Regions from separate parts of the Homo sapiens genome. Here all the other regions are linked to region 1. Evidence: fine-mapped expression QTL. A gene starts in region 1. Each other region holds a variant in brackets. All regions are shown on one strand. Distances are from middle to middle. Region 1 holds the start of PBX4 (PBX homeobox 4). Region 2 overlaps HAPLN4 (hyaluronan and proteoglycan link protein 4). Region 3 overlaps PBX4 (PBX homeobox 4).

The links. PIP is the estimated chance that this variant, and not a neighbour inherited with it, causes the effect.
Region 2: its variant is fine-mapped to the expression of PBX4 in whole blood (TOPMed, PIP above 0.99).
Region 3: its variant is fine-mapped to the expression of PBX4 in whole blood (TOPMed, PIP 0.95).

What each region holds. Positions count from the first base shown.
Region 1 is chr19:19,617,364-19,620,124 of GRCh38, forward strand. It overlaps PBX4 (PBX homeobox 4), which reads right to left and starts at 1,324. Exons shown (of 8, transcript NM_025245.3): 1 at 1,148-1,324. The coding sequence starts at 1,266. RefSeq lists a silencer at 1,106-1,315.
Region 2 is chr19:19,253,279-19,256,039 of GRCh38, forward strand. HAPLN4 (hyaluronan and proteoglycan link protein 4) reads right to left here. Exons shown (of 5, transcript NM_023002.3): 5 at 1,478-2,761. Among named protein-coding and RNA genes, the nearest start is that of HAPLN4, 8.1 kb to the right of the region's middle. The variant G/A (reference allele first, on the strand shown) is at 1,530.
Region 3 is chr19:19,584,900-19,587,660 of GRCh38, forward strand. The region is part of intron 2 of PBX4 (PBX homeobox 4); the gene reads right to left. It also overlaps the pseudogene PHF5AP1. Among named protein-coding and RNA genes, the nearest start is that of PBX4, 32 kb to the right of the region's middle. The variant C/T (reference allele first, on the strand shown) is at 1,370.

The sequences.
Region 1 (2,761 bases):
TGCAATGGCTTGATTCGGCTCACTGCAGCCTCAGCCTCCTAAGTAGCTGGGACTACAGGCTTGCATCATCACACCTAACTAATTTTTTAATTTTATTTTTAGTAGAGACGAGGTCTTACTACATTGTCCAGGTTGGTCTCGAACTCCTGAGCTCAAGCAATCCTCCTGCCTCAGCCTCCTAAAGTGCTGTGATTAGAGATGTGAGCCACTCCACCCAGTCCTTATTTTTTGCTATTTACATTCCCTCCCCTAAATCATGTACTCGAGAGCAGGGACTATGTCAGCACCCGGTTCCCTATCCAGTTATTGTAAGGATTCAATAAAAATTTGCTGAATTCATTAAAAAGAAAATAGGTCTTCCATCTCCACCCACTCCTCTACTAACCCTTTTCCCAAAAGTTCTCGATGGTTCCCACACCAAGTTACCCCAGTTCAGTTCTTCAGTCTCCTGCAGACATTCCTGAGTCCCATTCCCAGCCACTCACTCTCCATCATCTGCCCTGGAAACTTCCCACCCACAGGCCGGGCTCGGTGGCTCGCGCCTGTAATCCCAGCACTTAGGGAGGCCGAGACGGAATGAGTGCTTGAACCCAGGAGTTTAAGCAACTATAGCGAGACCCCTGTCTCTACAAAATATACAAAAAAATCAGCCGGGCGTGGTTGCACGTGCGCCTGTGGTCCCAGCTACTCGGGAGGCTGAGGCAGGAGAATCAACTGAGCCGGGGAGGTGGATGCTGCAGTGAGCCATGATCACGCCACTGCACTCCAGCCTGGGCGACAGAGCAAGACCGTGTCAAACAACAACAAAAAAACTTCCAGCCGCAGGAGTCCCATTAACGTACCCATTTAGTCATTCACTCGTCAAAAGTCCCGTACGTGCCCATTTCTCAGCCCTACTCCCTAAACCCCTAAACCCAACCTTCTCGCCCCAAGATGAGCTGCTGAAAATCCTTCACGCCACTGCTCGGCCCCATAAGGCCTATCCAGCCCGTTCCGTTTGAACCCCATACATCCCTTCGTCCTCGGGACCCCCCTCCAGCCCTCCTCAAGCGCCCCTCGTCAGTCTGGCCTCCACGCCCCGTCCCCTCAGCCCGCCAACCTCACTGCCACGACCCTGCGTGGCCCCTGCCGAGCCCGCGGGCAGCACCTGGCCTGTGCCTCGTCCAGGCTCTGGTCGGTGATGGCCATGATCTGCTGCAGGACGTCGCTCGTGTCGAGGCGCCGCGGGGCGGGGGGCGATGGCGCGGGGCGCGGCGGGGCGGCCATGAGCGGCAGGGCCGGGCGGGCGCTGTGAGGGTGCCGTCGAGCCTGGAGCACTACCACTGGCGCCGCAGCCAACCGCCGCTGCCTGAGCGCCGCGCCCGCTCTCGCTCGCGCCTAAGCCACGCCCACCGCCGCTATCGCCAGCCAACCCGTGTATTGCACCGCCTACAGACACGCCCCTTCATCTCCGTCAGCCAACCGGCGCCACGCACCGCCCCCGGGACTCGCCCCGAACTTCCCCCTCTCCGGGCTTGGACTGGGTTTGGGGTTGCCGAGGCAACGGCACTTCTCATAAGCGCCCTCCTTCCCCTTGAGAGAGGGCAGCGCTGGCTCCGCTCCAGCCAGAGGCCCCCATCCCTCACATCTCGCGCGGTGCACGCCTCCTTCAGCCCCACTCGCATCTCCTCAGAGTTCCTGCTCCTCCTCAGGGCCCCCTTCTCCTCAAAGCCCTCGGTCCTCAGAGACCCTCACTCCCCAGAGCACCCCAACTCTTCCTCCAAGCCACCCCCTCCTCCTCAGAACCCCACACCTCTTATAGCTTGATCGACAGCCCCCATTCATTTCCAGAAGCCCCAAGCCCCAGACCCCTGCTCAGTCCCCCTAATGCTCCCTGCATCCTCAGCCCCATCAGGTGGGCCACTGGGGCCCCTGGCTCTTCCTCTAGAGCTTTCCACGCCCCGTTCACCTGGCTAAGGCGGGGCGCAGGCGTGCGTGGTTGATGGCAACGAGGAGGTCAGAACGCAGCGCTTTTCTCCACTGCAGAAATCAATTCCAGTCACCTTTCAAGGTCCAGCTGAAGAGTGACCTCGCTTGTTTATTCATCTTCGCAGATTACAGTTCTGGGCATAGAAAATGCTACCACGTGGTTACCGAATGAAGGAAGGATGTTTACTGAGAGACTCCCCTGCAGTGTACCCCAAATCAGAGCGAATCCTCACATCTTTGTTTCTAGTCCTTAGGACACAGCATCGAAGGCTCCTAGTGCACAAGAAAAGGAACTGGGCGGTGGCTCATGCCTGTAATCCTAGCACTTTGGGCGGCAGAGGCGGGAGGATCACTTGAGCACGGGAGTTTGAGACCAGCTTGGGCAACATAGTGAGACCCCGTGGTGGTGCACGCCTGTGGTCCCAGCTATTTGGGACTTGAGAGGCTGAAGTGGGAGGATCACTTGGGCCTGGGAATTTGAGGCTGCAGTGAGCCATGATTGCACCACTGCACTGCAGCCTGGTTGACGGAGACCAGGTCTCAAAAAAAAAAAAAAAAAAAAAAAGTAATGGCCTGGACATGAATCTCTTCTCCAAAGTCACAGAACCTCCTGGAGCCTATTTGCTATGAGGACAGTCTCCAGATGTGGGCTCAGTAAAAGGTCCTCAGCCTGCTGGCTGGGAGCCCTTCCAGGGTGGGGCCCACGTTCTCTCCATTGCTGCTGGGGAGGAAATTCAAACACCATCTGGTATGGCTGGATTGGAGAGCGTCGGGAGACTCCAAAGGGGACGGC
Region 2 (2,761 bases), 360 kb before region 1:
TGATCTCCATCTAAAAAAAAAAAAAAGATCCTTGCATATATCAAAGATGATAATGTGCTTGAACTGTGAATGATTTACGATTTGCTCGACCGCCTGCACCTAAGGTCAAAGTTGGTGGTGGTGGTTGGAGATGTTCAACCTCACAAATAGAAACGCAAGCAACAACCACATTGAGATACCATTTTTCACCTATCAGATTGACAAAAATAAAAAGTGACAAGACATGAGGCTAATGAGGATGTGTGGAACAGGTGAGTACTTTTTTTTTTTTTTGAGAAGGGGTCTTGCTCTGTTGCCCAGGCTGGAGTGCAGTGGTGCAGTCTCACCTCACTGTAACCTCCGCCTCCTCAGTTCAAGTGATTCTCCTGCCTCAACCTCCCGAGTAGTTGGGATTACAGGTGCCTGCCACCATGCTGGGCTAATTTTTGTATTTTTGGTAGAGATGGGGTTTTGCCATGTTGGCCAGGCTAGTCTCGAACTCCTGACCTCAGGTGATCCACCCGCCTCGGCCTCCCAAACTGTTGGGATTACAGCCGTGAGCCACCATGCCCAGCCAGGTGAGTATATCTATTACCTGTGGAGTATAAATTGGCCCCATCTCTAAGAAAATGTGGAAATCACTATGAAAACGGCGAGTTTTAGTCTGGGCACAGTGGCTCATGCCTGTAATACTAGCACCGTAGGAGGCCAAGGCAGGTGGATCACCTGAGGTCAGGAGTTCGAGACCAACCTGGCCAACATGGTAAAACCCCATCTCTGCTAAAAACAGAAAAATTAGTTGGGCGCAGTGGCAGGCGCCTGTAATCCCAGCTACTTTAGAGGCTTAGGCAGAAGAATCGCTCGAACCCGGGAAGCAGAGGTTGAGGTGAGCCGAGACCGTGACATTGCACTCCAGCCTGGGCAATAGGAGCAAAACTCTGTCTCAAAAAAAAAAAAAAAAAAAAAAAATGGTAAATGGGGAGTTTTGACCCTTTGAACAAACAGCTTCTTTTTTTTTTTTTTTTTTTGAGACGGAGTCTCGCTCTGTCGCCCAGGCTGGAGTGCAGTGGCGCTATCTCAGCTCACTGCAAGCTCCGCATCCCAGGTTAGGCCATTCTCCTGCCTCAGCCTCCTGAGTAGCTGGGACTACAGGTGCCTGCCACCACGCCCAGCTAATTTTTTGTATTTTTAGTAGAGACGGGGTTTCACCATGTTAGCCAGGATGATCTCGATCTCCTGACCTCGTGATTCGCCCACCTCAGCCTTCCAAAGTGCTGGTATTACAGGTGTGAGCTGCCGTGCCCGGCCTGAACAAACAACTTCTGATATCATCCTCCAGTTATACTTGAACTTGTGAGTGATGATGTGGATACTTACTTCTAGCAGAAACATATTGAGAACAATATAAATGTCCACCATTAGGAACCTGACTACAAAATTATGATGCATTCAATCCAAACCATTGATCCTCTTCAGACTGTCAGAAGAATGAGGAAGAGGAGATTTACTTATTTTTATTTTTTGAGACAGGGTCTCACTCCGTCGCCCAA[G/A]CTGGAGTGCAGTGGTACAATCATGGCTCACTGCAGCCTCGACCTTCTGGCTCAAGCAATCCTCCCACCTTGGTCTCTTAAAGTGCTGGGATTATAGGCATGATCCACTGTGCACGGTCAGGACCTTACACTATTTTTTCTCTTCATGCTTTGTTGTATCCTAGAAACTTCCAGTGCTTCCTCAGCCCCTGCCCTCAGCCCACATATTCATGTCAGGGAAAGTTTGTAATGTCTCTCCCTTCCTGGTACAGGAACCCCCCTTCCAGTTTCCCGAATTTCATGCCCTGGATCTTGTCAATGACCCAGTCAGGACAGAGTTGACAAGGAGCAGACCCATGGTGGGTGGCTAAAGGGAGACAGTGGGCACAGGATGGGGGAAGAAAGAGGAGCAAGAGATTGGGGAGGTGGGGGAGGAATGAAGGACCCCACTTCCAAAGAGAATAAAAATCAAGCCCGGCCAGGCGCAGTGGCTCACACCTGTAACCCCAACACTTTGGGAGGCCGAGGTGGGTAGATCACCTGAGGTCAGGAGTTCAAGACCAGCCTGGCCAACATGGTGAAACCCTGTCTCTACTAAAAATACAAAAATTAGCCGGGTGTGGTGGCAGGCACCTGTAATCCCAGCTACTCGGGAGGCTGAGGCAGGAGAATCACTTGAACCCGGGAGGCAGAGGTTGCAGTGAGCCAAGATTGCACGACTGCACTCCAGCCTGGGCGACAGGGCAGGACTCCATCTCAAAAAAACAAAACAAAAAAAACCCCAAGCCCCCCAAGCTTGTAACATCTTATCTACCAAAGTGCATTTATACAGGAATTACCCACTGGCTGCCTCATTTTCTCATTCATCAAAAGAAACAAGGATTTATTGAGCCCCTACTGTATGCTTGGCACTCACGGGGACCACAGAACAGCCCTGGTACAGTGGGAGAACACAGGTTCAGAAGGAGTTTGTCACTTGGTCACACAGTGAGCAAGAAGAGGCAGAATTCAAACCCAAACCGACCTGGTCCCAAAACTCAGAGATAGGTTTCCTAGAGATGACGTGACAGTAAAGAGGGCCCCAGGGGGACCCCAGTACTCCTGCAGGCAAGACTTCGGGACTGGGGTCTCCCACGGCCGGGATGGCCTTGTCCATGGATCATGTCCCCCCAGCTGCCTGTCAACGCCGAGGACTTCGGCTGGGTCCTGACCTCTTAGCACAGATCGCCGCTTAGAGCCTGGTGGGTGTTGAA
Region 3 (2,761 bases), 32 kb before region 1:
GCGCGAGCCACCTCCTGGCCCAAGGGCTGTTTTATCTTATGGTTTCCTGGGCATCATGGGCACTGAGTTTACTCCTTAACTCTAAACAAGGAGACTTCTGGAGCCCAGCCTGTTTGTATTAAGAACTGCCTGGCTTTACCTTTTAGGCCACATCCCACAGGTTAGTTCATTTAAGTAACATTCTAGGACAGGCGCTAGAACAGGCTTTGTTCTGTTCTCTGAGGCAGACCAGCCTGGCCAACATGGTGAAACCCCATCTCTATTAAAAATATAAAATTAGCTGGGCGTGGTAGTGCACACCTGTAATTCCAGCTACTTGGGGGGCTGAGGCAGGAGAATCTCTTGAACCCGGGAGGCAGAGGTTGAGGTGAGTCCAGATTGCGCCACTATACTCCAGCCTGGGTGACAGTGTGAGACTCCATCTCAAAAAAAAAAAGTAACATTCTAGATAAATCCTTATCTTAAGTCATGGAAGTTTCTCAGATCCACAGGACTTTAAAAAGAATAACCCTTAAAAAACACTCATCAGTTTCTGAAATAGTGGCTGCCACACACTAGATATTCACCCAACTGAGGGATTATCACACTAGGCAAATCTCCGTCATCTCTAATTAAAATACATCACAACCAGTCACAACTGAAGTGTGTCAGGCCTCTGAGCCCAAGCTAAGCCATCATATCCCTTGTGACCTGCACGTATACATCCAGATGGCCTGAAGCCACTGAAGATCCACAAAAGAAGTGAAAATAGCCTTAACTGATGACATTCCACCATTGTAATTTGTTTCTGCCCCACCCTAACTGATCAATGTACTTTGTAATCTCCCCCACCCTTAAGAAGGTTCTTTGTAATTCTTTCCACCCTTGAGAATGTACTTTGTGAGATCCACCCCCTGCCCAAAAAACACATTACTCCTAACTTCACCGCCTATCCCAAAACCTATAAGAACTAATGATAATCCCACCACCCTTTGCTGACTCTCTTTTTGGACTCAGCCCACCTGCACCCAGGTGAAATAAACAGCCATGTTGCTCACAGAAAGCCTGTTTGGTGGTCTCTTCACACGGACGCGTGAGAAATGAAGATGCTGGAACCACAATCAAATATGCAAATTAATTTCATTTCCATATGTTTACATGTTTGTTAATTAAAACACTGCAGTTCTGAAATAAACTAGTATGTGATTTTTAAAAAAATGCCTACTGTTCTGTACATTTAAAAAATAAATAGGCTGAGCATGTGGTGGCTTATGCCTGTAATCCTAGCACTTTGAGGGGCTGAGACGGGAGGATCACTTAAGCCCAGGAGTCCCAGACCAGCCTGGGCAACACAGCAAGACCCCCATCTATAAAAAGTACAAAAATTAGC[C/T]GGATATGGTGGCTTCTATCTGTAGTCTCAGCTACTTGAGAGGCTGAGGTGGGAGGATCACCTGAACCTGGGAAGTCAAGAATGCATTGAGCCATGATCATGCCACTGTACTCCAGCCTGTCTCTTTGAGACAGAGCAAGACCCTGTCTCAAAAAATAAACAAACAATTATATGAGCTGCTAATGCTGAGTAAAAATGATATGCGGTTTAGGCTTGTTTTTCTGTGCTACTGTCCTTGCATGTGGTAACAGGGCAAAAGGAAGACAGCAAAACACTGTAATATATAGTGCTGTAATATATATTTTTCCAGATGTGCCAGGCAGCACATCTGGAAAAACAAGCCCCTGTGAGGAGTTGCAAACATTTAAGAGCCACAGCTAAGAAAAACAGCACTTGGCCGGGCATGATGGCTCCTGCCTGTAATCCCAGCACTTTGGGAGGCCACGAAGTCAGGAGATCAGGATTATCATGGCTAACACGGTAAAACCCCATCTTTACTAAAAATACAAAAAATTAGCCAGGCGTGGTGGCATGCACCTGTAGTCCCAGCTACTCAGGAGGCTGAGGCAGGAGAATCGTTTGAACCCAGGAGGTGAAGGTTACAGTGAGCCGAGATCGCGCCACTGTACTCCAGCATGGGCGACAGAGTGAGATTCCGTCTCAAAAAAAGAAAAAGAAAAAGAAAAAGAAAAACAGCACTCACTGATGGCTTCTATCTACCATAAACAATTTTCTTTTTCTTTTTAATTTTTTTGAGACGCAGTCTCACTCTATTGCCCAGGCTGGAGTGCAGTGGCACAATCTTGGCTCACTGCAACCTCTGCCTCTCAGGTTCAAGTGATTCTCCTGCCTCACCCTCACAAGTAGCTGGGATTACAGGCACCCGCCACCCCACCCAGCTAATTTTTGTTTTTTTGTTTTGTTTTTGTTTTTTGACTACCAGAAAATAAACACGAACTTTATTAATAGCAATAGAAAGGGTTTCCAATTTCTCAGAATGAAAATAACATGACACCAGTACAAGTGTTAAAACAGTAGGCCGGGAGCAGTGGCTCACGCCTGTAATACCAGCACTTTGGAAGGCCAAGGCGGGCATATCACCTGAGGTCGGGAGTTTGAGACCAGCCTGGCCAACGTGGTGAAACCCCATCTCTACTAAAAATACAAAAATTAGCCGGGCGTGGTGGCGGACTCCTGTAATCCCAGCTACTTGGGCAGCTGAGGCAGGAGAACTGCTTGACCCCGGGAGGCAGAGGTTGTGGTGAGCCAAGATCGAGCCATTGCACTCCAGCCTGGGTGACAGAGCAAGACTCCGTCTCAAATTAAAAAAAAAAAAAAAAAAAAAGAGTAAATGCCTACATTTCTTGTTCTGATAGCTTCCCACCACACACC